Homo sapiens: one gene and its partners. The protein of the gene in region 1 interacts with the protein of each later gene in a pairwise test. Each region holds a gene or a part of one and is shown in the gene's direction. Other genes may lie near its edges.

Evidence for each region.
Region 2: the proteins of FRAT1 (region 1) and LMAN2 interact in a two-hybrid assay, tested with the Homo sapiens proteins (one large-scale study listed by BioGRID and IntAct).
Region 3: the proteins of FRAT1 (region 1) and TDRD7 interact in a two-hybrid assay, tested with the Homo sapiens proteins (one large-scale study listed by BioGRID and IntAct).

Annotation. Positions count from the first base shown.
Region 1 is NC_000010.11:97,317,842-97,322,250, forward strand, and holds FRAT1 (proto-oncogene FRAT1), read left to right. Parts: upstream 1-1,429; 5' UTR 1,430-1,612; coding exon 1,613-2,452; 3' UTR 2,453-4,074; downstream 4,075-4,409. UniProt on the Homo sapiens protein: Positively regulates the Wnt signaling pathway by stabilizing beta-catenin through the association with GSK-3. May play a role in tumor progression and collaborate with PIM1 and MYC in lymphomagenesis.
Region 2 is NC_000005.10:177,334,669-177,338,168, reverse strand, and holds part of LMAN2 (vesicular integral-membrane protein VIP36 precursor), read left to right. Parts: intron 1-383; coding exon 384-463; intron 464-644; coding exon 645-806; intron 807-918; coding exon 919-1,033; intron 1,034-3,500. UniProt on the Homo sapiens protein: Plays a role as an intracellular lectin in the early secretory pathway. Interacts with N-acetyl-D-galactosamine and high-mannose type glycans and may also bind to O-linked glycans.
Region 3 is NC_000009.12:97,481,391-97,485,109, forward strand, and holds part of TDRD7 (tudor domain-containing protein 7), read left to right. Parts: intron 1-1,458; coding exon 1,459-1,961; intron 1,962-3,719. UniProt on the Homo sapiens protein: Component of specific cytoplasmic RNA granules involved in post-transcriptional regulation of specific genes: probably acts by binding to specific mRNAs and regulating their translation.

The DNA of each region.
Region 1 (4,409 bases):
TTCTGTCAAAGAAAGAAAAGAAAGAGAAAGAAAAGGAAGAAAGGAAGGAAGGAAGCGTATCTCCATTTTCATCCAAACAGGTATTTTTCTCTGCTACTACGTACCTCCTCAGAGCCCATCCCCCCTACTGGTCTGAGGCTTTTTTTTAAACAACTTTCTGGACATAGCCCCTCTTAAGACTAACAACCTATAGCCAGGCGTGGTGGCTCACGCTTGTAATCCCAGGATTTTGGGAGGCCGAGGCAGGTGGATCACCTGAGGTCGGGAGTACCAGACCAGCCTGACCAATATGGAGAAACCCCATCTCTGCTAAAAACACAAAATTAGGCTGGGCATGGCGGCGCATGCCTGTAATCCCAGCAACTCGGGAGGCTGAGGCAGGAGAACTGCTTGAACCCAGGAGGCGGAAGTTGTGGTGAGCGGAGATTGCGCCATTGTACTCCAGCCTGGGCAACAAGAGCGAAACTCTGTCTCAAAAAAACAAAACAAAACAAAAAGAGTAGCAACCTAGGCCGGGCGCAGTGGCTCACGCCTGTAATCCCAGCACTTTGGGAGGCTGAGGCGGGTGGATCACCTGAGGTCAGGAGTTCGAGACCAGCCTGGCCAACATGGTGAAACCCCGTCTCTACTAAAAATACAAAAATTAGCCGGGCGTGGTGGTGGGCGCCTGTAATCCCAGCTACTCGGAAGGCTGAGGCAGGAGAATTGCTTAAACGCAGGAGGCGGAGGTTGTAGTGAGTGGAGATCGAGCCACTGCACTCCAGCCTGGGCGATAGAGCGAGACTCCGTCTCAAAAAAACAAACAAACAAATAAACAAAAAGACTAGCAACCTCCTCTCCAGCAATGCCAACCCCAGTCCAGGCCCCCATCCGCCCAGGATCTCGATCAAAAAACATTAATCTGTGGCCTTTCTTTGCCATTTCCAACTCTGCCACCTCCATCGAACGACAAGGTCCCCTTCTTCCTTTCCATTCCCGTCAGCTTCATTTCCCTAATCTCCGTACAAATCCCTAGCCTGACTCCCTTTCCTTTCCATCCTCACCAGACGCCCGCATGCCGGACCTCAAAAGCGCAAACGCTAAAAACCGGTTGAGTTGACGCACGGAGAGAAGGGGTGTGTGGGTGGGTGGGTGTGTGTTAGTGTGCGTGCTTGCTTGTGTGTGGAAGAAACCAACAGGGTTCACGCTGGTGCCCATTTCTGGAAATGCCAATCGCGCCCGACTGCGGGAGCCAGGATCAGGTCCCCAGGGCGCCCTTGCAGACAGCACCCTGAGCGAAGGAGCTCAGAAGGCAGTCCGGCTTCACCCAGACCCCCAATCCCACAGAAGCGCCGTCCCCCAGCGGCACAGCACCCCCTCCCCGGCGCGGTGGTAGGGCCCGACGTGACGTCACCCATTGTTTACAAATCAACCCGAGCCGGCAGGATTCCGGCTCCCGCGGCTGCAGGCGCGCGGCTAGAGTGCCTGGCGGGCTCCGGCTTCCGCGTCCGCCCCGGCCCCGGTCCAGACTTAGTCTTCAGCTCCGCGCCCGCTCCGCCGCGGCCCACCGCGCCCGCCGGCAGCCGAGCCCCCAGCGACGCCCGCACAGCTCCGGGTGCCCAGACAGGGGGCCATGCCGTGCCGGAGGGAGGAGGAAGAGGAAGCCGGCGAGGAGGCGGAGGGGGAGGAAGAGGAGGAGGACAGCTTCCTCCTACTGCAGCAGTCAGTGGCGCTGGGCAGCTCGGGCGAGGTGGACCGGCTGGTGGCCCAGATCGGCGAGACGCTGCAGCTGGACGCGGCGCAGCACAGCCCGGCCTCGCCGTGCGGGCCCCCGGGGGCGCCGCTGCGGGCCCCGGGGCCCCTGGCTGCGGCGGTGCCGGCGGACAAGGCCAGGTCCCCGGCGGTGCCGCTGCTGCTGCCGCCCGCGTTGGCGGAGACTGTGGGCCCGGCGCCCCCTGGGGTCCTGCGCTGCGCCCTGGGGGACCGCGGCCGCGTGCGGGGCCGCGCTGCGCCCTACTGCGTGGCCGAGCTCGCCACAGGCCCCAGCGCGCTGTCCCCACTGCCCCCTCAGGCCGACCTTGATGGGCCTCCGGGAGCTGGCAAGCAGGGCATCCCGCAGCCGCTGTCGGGTCCGTGCCGGCGAGGATGGCTCCGGGGCGCCGCCGCCTCCCGCCGCCTGCAGCAGCGACGCGGGTCCCAACCAGAAACCCGCACAGGCGACGACGACCCGCACCGGCTTCTGCAGCAGCTAGTGCTCTCTGGAAACCTCATCAAGGAGGCCGTGCGAAGGCTTCATTCGCGACGGCTGCAGTTACGTGCAAAGCTTCCCCAACGCCCGCTCCTGGGACCTCTGTCGGCCCCGGTGCATGAACCCCCTTCGCCTCGCAGCCCTCGCGCGGCCTGCAGTGACCCTGGCGCCTCCGGGAGGGCGCAGCTCAGAACTGGCGACGGCGTTCTTGTGCCTGGCAGCTAACACGCCCGGGGTGGCCACAGCGCCAGCCTCAGACTGGAGGGCAAGGGGTTCCCTTGAGGGCTGCAGTTCTACTCAGGCTGGTGGAGAACTCTGGCTTTTGGAAGCGAGAGTAAAAAGCTAATGACGAGGAACCGAAAAATCGCGAGTGTTTCGCGGGTAACTGGGGTTGAGGGCCAAAATATTTGGAATGAAGGACTTTGGCCCTATTTAAGGCAGATTTTACAGAGCGCACCTCAAACGTACAAGTCAGTAGGACTCCTTATTTGGCGTGACCCGACCTGGCCGCGGAGCCTGCATTTCCTCGCAGCCTCTCAGTGCCCTCCAGCCCCGCGACCATGTGGCCACAATCCACGCTTCTCCGGATCGCGGTGCGCCGGAACCACGGAGGATGATGCCAGTTACTTGCTTTACCTTTTCAGGGCTGGCTCCTGATCCACTTTGGGGGAGGAGAACATGAGTAGATAATTTCAGGGTGCAGCCCAATCTGCCAGACTTAAAAAAACCATCTTGTGTCTTTGGAGGTGCTGCTTAATACCAAACATGCGGTGCCATGAAGGGACCCTTTGGGGGTTGAATAGGAGTTAACCCCTGCGCTCTCTTTGCAACTGTCTCTCTTCTCAGAGTGGTGGGGGAAGGCTGTACGACACGGGTGGGGAAAGGAGGTGGGGGCGGGGAGTATTGAATGGTGGTGGAAGGGTAGAGAGGCGCGGAGTGAACCCCACGCCCTGTCTAAAGTGTATTTTCAGAGCCGGCCCGCCTCTCCTCGGTTCAAGGTCACTGTTTCCTGGGCACGCACTGGGTTGCGGGACAGAGTAGCCAGGTTCTGCCGGTGCTCGGAGAAGAGCGCAGTGTTTTGCAAGTGCTGGAGTCTCCTGAGGACACGCGCGTCGCCGCCACCGCGGGTGTGGGAAAGCGCGGACGTGCTGGGCGGCTGTGCTTCGGTAGGCGACCACCGCCCCTGGCCGCGCTCCGGGCTTTCACGGAAACTCCCGAGACCGGGCCCTGGGTTCCTCCTCTCCTACTCGGCTCTGCAGTCCTACTCAAGCGGGTGGCTCTGGGATCCTGGGGGCCTGGGTTGGGGGCTAGGGAGACGCCATGTGATGGACACTCCAGGGACACACAGCCTAGCACAGCAGCTTATAATGGGCTCTCCGGGGCCATTTGCAATAACAGCTGCAATTCCCTGGATAGACGAGTTGATTTCCTCCCTCTGCCCCTCCCCCAGCCATGCCAGCTGGCCTTTGTAAGTGCAGGAAACCGAGTAGAAAATGTGACCCTCCAAATGGAGAAGCTGCAGGCTTTGCCATTGTGAACCATGGTGAAGTGCTTGGAACATACTGTTCACTCACTCTAAAGGCGCTGAGACTGTGCTGTTGTTCTCGTTTTTATAGTCAATGGCTTGTTCATCATCCAGATGTGGCTACTGACATATCTACACTTCGCACCGGAGTGTCTGGAATTGTGGCTATCCTGATTATAGGATTTTAACTTAACTGAAATGCCTGCTTTGAATAAATGTGTTGGGTTTTTTGTTTGGTTTTATTTTATACTTGCCATCAGTGAAAAAGATGTACAGAACACATTTCTCTGATCTCCATAAACATGAAAACACTTGAAATCTCTGTCAGCCTGGCTTGTGGATGGTAATTAGAGCGCCTTTGTGTCTGAGCAGCTCACTAGCTAGACAAGGTCTCCGCAGCTGGGTGTGTATTGGAGCTGGCATGAAATTAAATGAAAGTGAGGTCAGGTTTTGGACCAATCCCATTCGTTAAAACCTCAGAGCCTTTTGGATTACTAGTCAGTGATGGAGATGTGTTATAAAGCTGCCTCTATTAGCAAAGGACATCAGATCAGCCAGTCACTGCAAACTGGGAGGCTTATCTTTTTTTTTTTCTTTTTCTTTTTTTCTTCTTTCTCACCGTGGCCATTAAGTGCACTTGTTCCACAAGGTGGGCCT
Region 2 (3,500 bases), on another chromosome or scaffold:
TGGCCCACAGACCCTGAGGTGTTTCCTTGGTGGCTCTTCACAGAATGTTTGCTGCCCCTAGTATAGAGGGTAGAGCCTCCTGGGTAGGGCTGTCCTGTGGCTCACTGTTTTTTGTAGGCCAGGTACCCCCTTGACACCTGACATCTGCCTCAGTCCCCTCACAGTTCAGCCTTCAAACTTGAGTCCTCTGTGTCATATGCCTAGACCCCCCACTTCTGAGGAGAAAGCCTCAGCTTTCTCCTTTCACGATCCCTTCTCTCTCGGTGAATGGCCAGTGGGTTGGGCTCTCTTGCCCCCACCCATGTTGGCATTGCTTGCCTTTTAGGTACCCATGGGACGGCTCCTGTTTCTCCCATTCTGAGAGCATCTGCTTATAATTCTAGGGCCTGTGTTTGGAAGCAAAGATAACTTCCACGGCTTAGCCATCTTCCTGGACACCTACCCCAATGATGAGACCACTGAGGTAGGCCCCTGCTCTATCCTGCTGAGCAGGAAAGGAAGGACTGGGCAGTCGGCTAGAGGAGGGGGCCCTGGGACTTCCATGGTCCCAGCACAAGAGGAGCCTCCAGGGATTGGGGTGGTGGGTGCCCCTGCTCGCCCCACAGGCTGGGCTGCTTGTGGAGTAACCGATGTCTTGGTCCCAGCGCGTGTTCCCGTACATCTCGGTGATGGTGAACAATGGCTCCCTGTCCTACGACCACAGCAAGGATGGGCGCTGGACCGAGCTGGCGGGCTGCACGGCTGACTTCCGCAACCGCGATCACGACACCTTCCTGGCTGTGCGCTACTCCCGGGGCCGTCTGACGGTGAGCAGGCTAGGCGGTGGGGGTGGCAGCTGGTGGCCCTGTGCTGGTCCCACAGAGGCTCAGGAGGGCAGGCTGCTGTCCTGCGAGGTGCTTAGCGTGCTGGGCCCTGCAGGTGATGACCGACCTGGAGGACAAGAACGAGTGGAAGAACTGCATTGACATCACGGGAGTGCGCCTGCCCACCGGCTACTACTTCGGGGCCTCCGCCGGCACCGGCGACCTGTCTGGTGAGTGGGCCGGGCCAGGCGTTGGTTCCCAGCCCAGCTCACCCTGAGGGACTGGGAGCTTTCCATGCAGTTGATTGCCTGCCTTCATGTGGTTTCTGAGCTCACCTGGCTGTGTTCCTCCTCCTCCTTTCTTCTGTAAATGGCCTGTCCGGGCCTCAGTTCCTGTGGTTTCTGGGCTCACCTGGCTGTGTTCCTCCTCCTCCTTTCTTCTGTAAATGGCCTGTCCGGGCCTCAGTTCCTGTGGTTTCTGAGCTCACCTGGCTGTGTTCCTCCTCCTCCTTTCTTCTGTAAATGGCCTGTCCGGGCCTCAGGCCTTGAACGGTCCCTTGGCAACCTTCCCCATCAACAGGAGGCAGCGGGTCAGTTAGATTTGGGCAATGTAGATTCCCAGATTTATCTCCAGCCCAGACCGCTCTGGACCTGCTCAGCCCTTGTGCCCACAGCTGAGGCCACATCTTGCCCATCGGGATGTCAGTGGCACCTGTGCCCCTCTATTTGCTTGCTGTCTTTCCGGACCCTTCTTTCTCTCACATGGCACCTCTGGTCCATCAACAGTCCCTGTGGCTTTATTTTCACAGCACGTCTCACCACTTCCCTCCCCTCCCTGACTACCTGGCGGCTTCAGGCCACCAGTGTCTCTCACAGGAGTCTCCCAAGTGGTCCCCTCCTTCACCAGCCCCCAACAGTCTCTCGTGAGCACAGCAGCCGTGTAATCGCCTTCAGTAATCGCCTTCAGCCCGTGTGAGGCCTCCTGCTGCTCTGCGCAGAGCTCTGCAGGGGGCGCCAGGGCCTCTGTGCCAGCCCTGCCACCTCTGGCTCCCTGCTCACTGCTCCCCCTGCCTACTGTGGCTTCCAGCTGCTGCCTGGATGCGCCTGTGCCCTCCTGCCCCGGCTGTTTCACCCTTGTCTCCTAGGGCCTTGCTCAGATGTTACCTCCTCAGTGCGGCCTTCCCTGATGCCCTCGTGGAATGTCGTGCCCCCTCCTGTGTCCCCAGCCCACTCCCCAGCATCTTTGCTGGCTTTATTTTTCTTCATAATATTTACCATCTTTGAGTCTACCGAGTAATTAATTTTATTGTCTCTGGCCCTCCTGCTCAATTGTAAGCTCTATAAATGGCTGTTTGGCCCAGGGCAGGTGCTCAGCGAGCACTGGGGTGCCTCTAACCTGCTCAGGCCTCACTGGTCACCAGGCCGTGGTGGCCCTTGGCTGTGGTTCTCGGTTTCTCTTTGGGGCCCTGAGCAGGTGCCAGGCCCAGGGCCAGCTCCTGACCAGAACTGGCACGTGACACGGGGGACCTGACATGGGCGGTTTATCCTCAGGATGACCCATTCCAGGGCCTGTAGTCTGCCCACTGCCCAGGAGCCTCCTCTCTCAGCATGGAAGTGCTTGGGTCCGCTCAGACCCCAGAACATCCATTGTTTGGGGGTTTTTCAGTCACATACCCAGCAGAGGAGAGAGGTCTGGTAAGCACCCTTCCTGCCAACCAGCTTTCATCATTTCCAGCTCGCGCCTGGCTGGTTTCCCTCCTGCCCCGGGTTGCCTGGAACTTCATCACACTGTTTCAGCCCTTGTCTTTGGAGGGTTCTTGATAGGAGCAGAGCAGCACCAGTGCTGTGGCCGGTGGCAGCTCTCACAGCTGTTGGGAGAGCCCAGCACAGAGTGGAGGAGGCACCATGAGGGGAGCCGTGTCTGACCACTGGTCAGGGGTCATCAGTGCCAGGCACCTTACGGGTGATGTCACCTGATGTATTTTTAGGCAGATGGCCATCTCGTTCCCTTTTTACTCAACCATTGGGAGTTTGAAAACTGAAAGGATTTTTCCTAAGATACGAGCAGGAAGCAGCAGAGCCCAGATGGGAACTGGGGCCTGACTCCAGGGCCGGTCCTTGTCCTGCAGGGCCGCTCGCCGTCTCCAAGGGCTGTGCATGCTCGGCTCTCACACTGTGTGCCTGGCCGAGCTCTTGCTCATTAGGTCCCCCCTTGGCTCCAGAGATTCCTGCTCCCTTCAACAAGGCCTTTCCTCAGATTCCAGTCCCAGGCTGACCAGGACCCACGTGTCGGCTTTGAGCCTCAGCCTCCTCATCTCTACAATTGGGTGATCCATCAGCGTCAAGCCAGGGCTCTTCCCTGTGCATGCCATTGGACAGAGCCTTTCCCCAGTCTCCTCAGGCACAGCTGCTGACCTGCGTTAGGCTCAGGCCCTTAGCTGGTTGCCGAGTTGTTCCCCTGCAGCCTGTATGTGGGTCTCTGTGGCAAGAATGTCTGGTGGCTCCTGCCCTTGGGACCTCAGCCTTCTCAGCCAGTCACACAGCGACTGTTGGTCTTTCCCGGGTCTGTTTTTGAGCACTTATTCTGCAGGCAGGCCATCTTCTGTGTGGTGTAGACCCTTCTCATGTACTTGCCATGGCAACCACACAGATGGAGATCATCACTCCTCTACATGTGCGGAACATGAGCCTCAAAGAG
Region 3 (3,719 bases), on another chromosome or scaffold:
TTATTTAATCTGCCATACTTATTTCACTAGCTCTTGTTTCTTTTTCTGTACTTTTGCATCTTTAAATCAAAAACATTGCTCATATATCCAAGAATACAAATTTAAGAAGATAGTTTTTCTCTGTTAACTGATGGAAATTGTATGACTGTTTTATATAAACATTTAAAATGAAATGTCCTTGAAAAATATCTTCATGAAGACCTCTAAATTATTCTAGCTAGCAGTGATTTTTCTGTCTTTGTATTCCTCTGGGGTTTATAGTGTACAATTACATGCTTAATTATATACTATTCCATATTCTTCAGTTGTCACATGATAATACTGTTTTCTCAGCTACTCTTTAAGCTCCTAAAGCCAGAATATTGGATGGTTACTCAATAAAAGTACTTTTTGTTAATTTTTAAAACTGTACTTCTGTATTATAAATTTCAAAATGAATTTGCAGTCAGTATTTAATTAGTACTTCAGAGGATGAATGTAATAGAGGCATCTTGTTGGGAAAAAAAAGAAATTTTAAGTAAATCACTGTAGATGGGTTGCCTTGCTGTTATCTCCCTCTCCGCAGACCTGTGTTCCTGCCTTTCATTTCTAGCCCTATTTGGTAAAAGATAAATGTGGCTGGAAGTATCTTATTTTTATCATTCCTAAGATAAACCAGAGTTGCTGATGAGAATAGCCAACAGTCACCTAGCTCCTTGGGACACACAGCAGTACAGTCCCAATTATTAATGTATGATATTTCCATACAAACACCCCTCTGGCCGAAAGAGCAAAGATGGTTAGGTAGTCAGAGGTCTCCTGGACAAAAAGTGTAAAACTAATTTTGACCCGTTCTGTGGAGCTTGCTTCCTCTTTTTCTCCCCAGGTCCCTCTCCTCCCATGTAATTGGCGATGGGGAAAGGGGTGAGGACATATACTAGGACCAGACAAGGAATTTGAAAGAGGGGTGCTTACAGATATGGTGGTTGTCAGAGCTTTTTCCTTCCCTTCCCAGTCTTGAGGACACACCAGCCTTAAGCAGAACGCTCATAAATCATTTTGCCATCATTGTGATTGTTTTTTATTATTGATGCTGGGTGATGAGTATATCAGGGTTCATCATACTTATCATTTCTACTTTAAGTGTTTCGAAATATCATTAATTTAAACTATTTTAATCATGATATATAGAATCCTTTCTGTCAATGATAATGACCTTAGCAAGTTATAAAGTTTTCTCAGACTTTTTAAAGATTAGTAAATTTTTTATTTCCATAAGGCTGCACTGTTCCCTAGACTATTTTGACTTCAGAGCCCATTCATTGCCAAGCTGTGATAATTTATTTTTCCTTAAATAAAATGGATTTTAGCAAGGGTTTTGGCAAAATACTGTGTTTTAATGATTAAGGTTACTATAACTGCCTCTCAAAATTTAATGTGAACTTGTATTTCTTATATCATTTTTTGTGTTTTCCAAAGGTTACAAAAGTGGATGAAACCAGAGGGATCGCACATGTTTATTTATTTACCCCTAAGAACTTCCCTGACCCTCATCGCAGTATTAATCGCCAGATTACAAATGCAGACTTGTGGAAGCATCAGAAGGATGTGTTTTTGAGTGCCATATCCAGTGGAGCTGACTCTCCCAACAGCAAAAATGGCAACATGCCCATGTCGGGCAACACTGGAGAGAATTTCAGAAAGAACCTCACAGATGTCATCAAAAAGTCCATGGTGGACCATACGAGCGCTTTCTCCACAGAGGAACTGCCACCTCCTGTCCACTTATCAAAGCCAGGGGAACACATGGATGTGTATGTGCCTGTGGCCTGTCACCCAGGCTACTTCGTCATCCAGCCTTGGCAGGAGATACATAAGTTGGAAGTTCTGATGGAAGAGATGATTCTATATTACAGCGTGTCTGAAGAGCGCCACATAGCAGTGGAGAAAGACCAAGTGTATGCTGCAAAAGTGGAAAATAAGTAGGTCCTTGGACAAAGCATTTTATTCTACTCCTAAGAAAAATGTGTAAAATGATGCCAGAGTCTTAATCTTGGCGGGGGGACTTCGAACTGTACTAATGGGAATTTTGAATGTGAAACAAACACAGTAATTTTTCCGATTTTCTAGTATTTAAAATGATGTCACTTATCAAAAAATCTATTGGCCATATTCCTGTTAAAACCCAATTATATAACTAAAATGAATGTTTAAATATTTTTTCTATTTTTCTATTAGAAAAATATTTTTATTCAGAAAATAACCAGATTTTTTCATTTAATGACTTTTTATTTTAAAAATAAAAATATTATGGAAAAATTTTAAAATATAAAAAAAGCATAAGAAATTAAAATCAACCACCCACACATAACACTTGTTAAACTACTTATGTATTTCCTCTAATTTTATATGTGCATATTTATATAGTTGGTATATTATTAGTATGTATAATTTTGTACCTGCTTTTTTCACCTAACATTATGTCATGAACATTTTTCCATGTGATAAAATTTCTTCAGGAACCTTTATAATGGCTATTTTAATCATGATATACAGAATTCCTTTTTCCCAATGAAATCATAATTTACTTACCATTCTATTTTGTTATGTAAGGTTTTCTCTCCTGTATTTTTCACTATTATAAATAATAGTGAATGTAAATCTTTGCATTTCTGATTATTTATTTACGGGATAGATTCCTAGAAGAAAAGTCACTTGTTGGAAGATGGCAAGACTCTTGCTTTATGTTGTCAGCTGCATCCTGGCATCTGTGCCATCTTTCATAAGGAGCAACAATGCTTATTTCACTACTCTTTGGCCTTGGGGCTGTGAGAACATACTTTCTCTTACATTTCTTTAGCGCTTCAGTGTTTTTTCTAATATTTTCACATTTGGGTCCACACCCTCCTCCCCAAAGCCCTGCAGGATGTGCTGGTTTCATCCAAGTGAAGCCCAGACACCCCACTGTCCACTTTCCACTCAGGCCATGAAGCCCTGGGAAATGGCACAATGCCCATCCTGTTCCTTTGCCAGCTTGCTTAGGAGAAATGAACAAGCTTATTTATCAATGCTGAACACAAAGAACAGTCACCCCTCCCCAACACACACACACACACACACACACCCCAAAACTCAGTTTAAAAGGTCAAACTGCTTATTTTTTATATGAAATGTTTTAATTCTTTAAGATAGCAAACATAGGCATGTATAAAGTTTTGTCATTTTCATGGGAGAAAAAAACTAATTTTTAACTCTCAGTGAAGCGTATAAAAGCTCTCATTTCGAAAAACATACAATTTGTATGTCATAAGCTTTTCTTCTCTAAAAAACCATTTCTACTGTTGTGTTATTTATAACCACAAGCATAAATAGGTTTAATTCAGCTTGTGTAGGTTTGCCTCAATCAGAGCTCTTTGTAAGATAATTCAATCACAGTTAAAAACCAAACTAATGTTCTGGGGGGCAGATTGATGATTAAAGGTGAGGAGATCCTCCTTGGAGTAAAGGGGTTGGGTAGGAAGGAGAACACATCAACTGGAGAGCTCCAATATGAGCCCTTGCACTCCCCACTCTGCCCTCCATGGCTTTGAACCATTCTGCCCCAGGACTCTTGGACTTTAGTTAATTTGTCCCAGATAATCAAGGGATGTTTTGTATATAAAAACAGATAATCTGATTTTTTTAAAACTTCATGAACTGAATCAGTATAAAATGTTTAGAACTTCTGTCTTCCTTAAGAC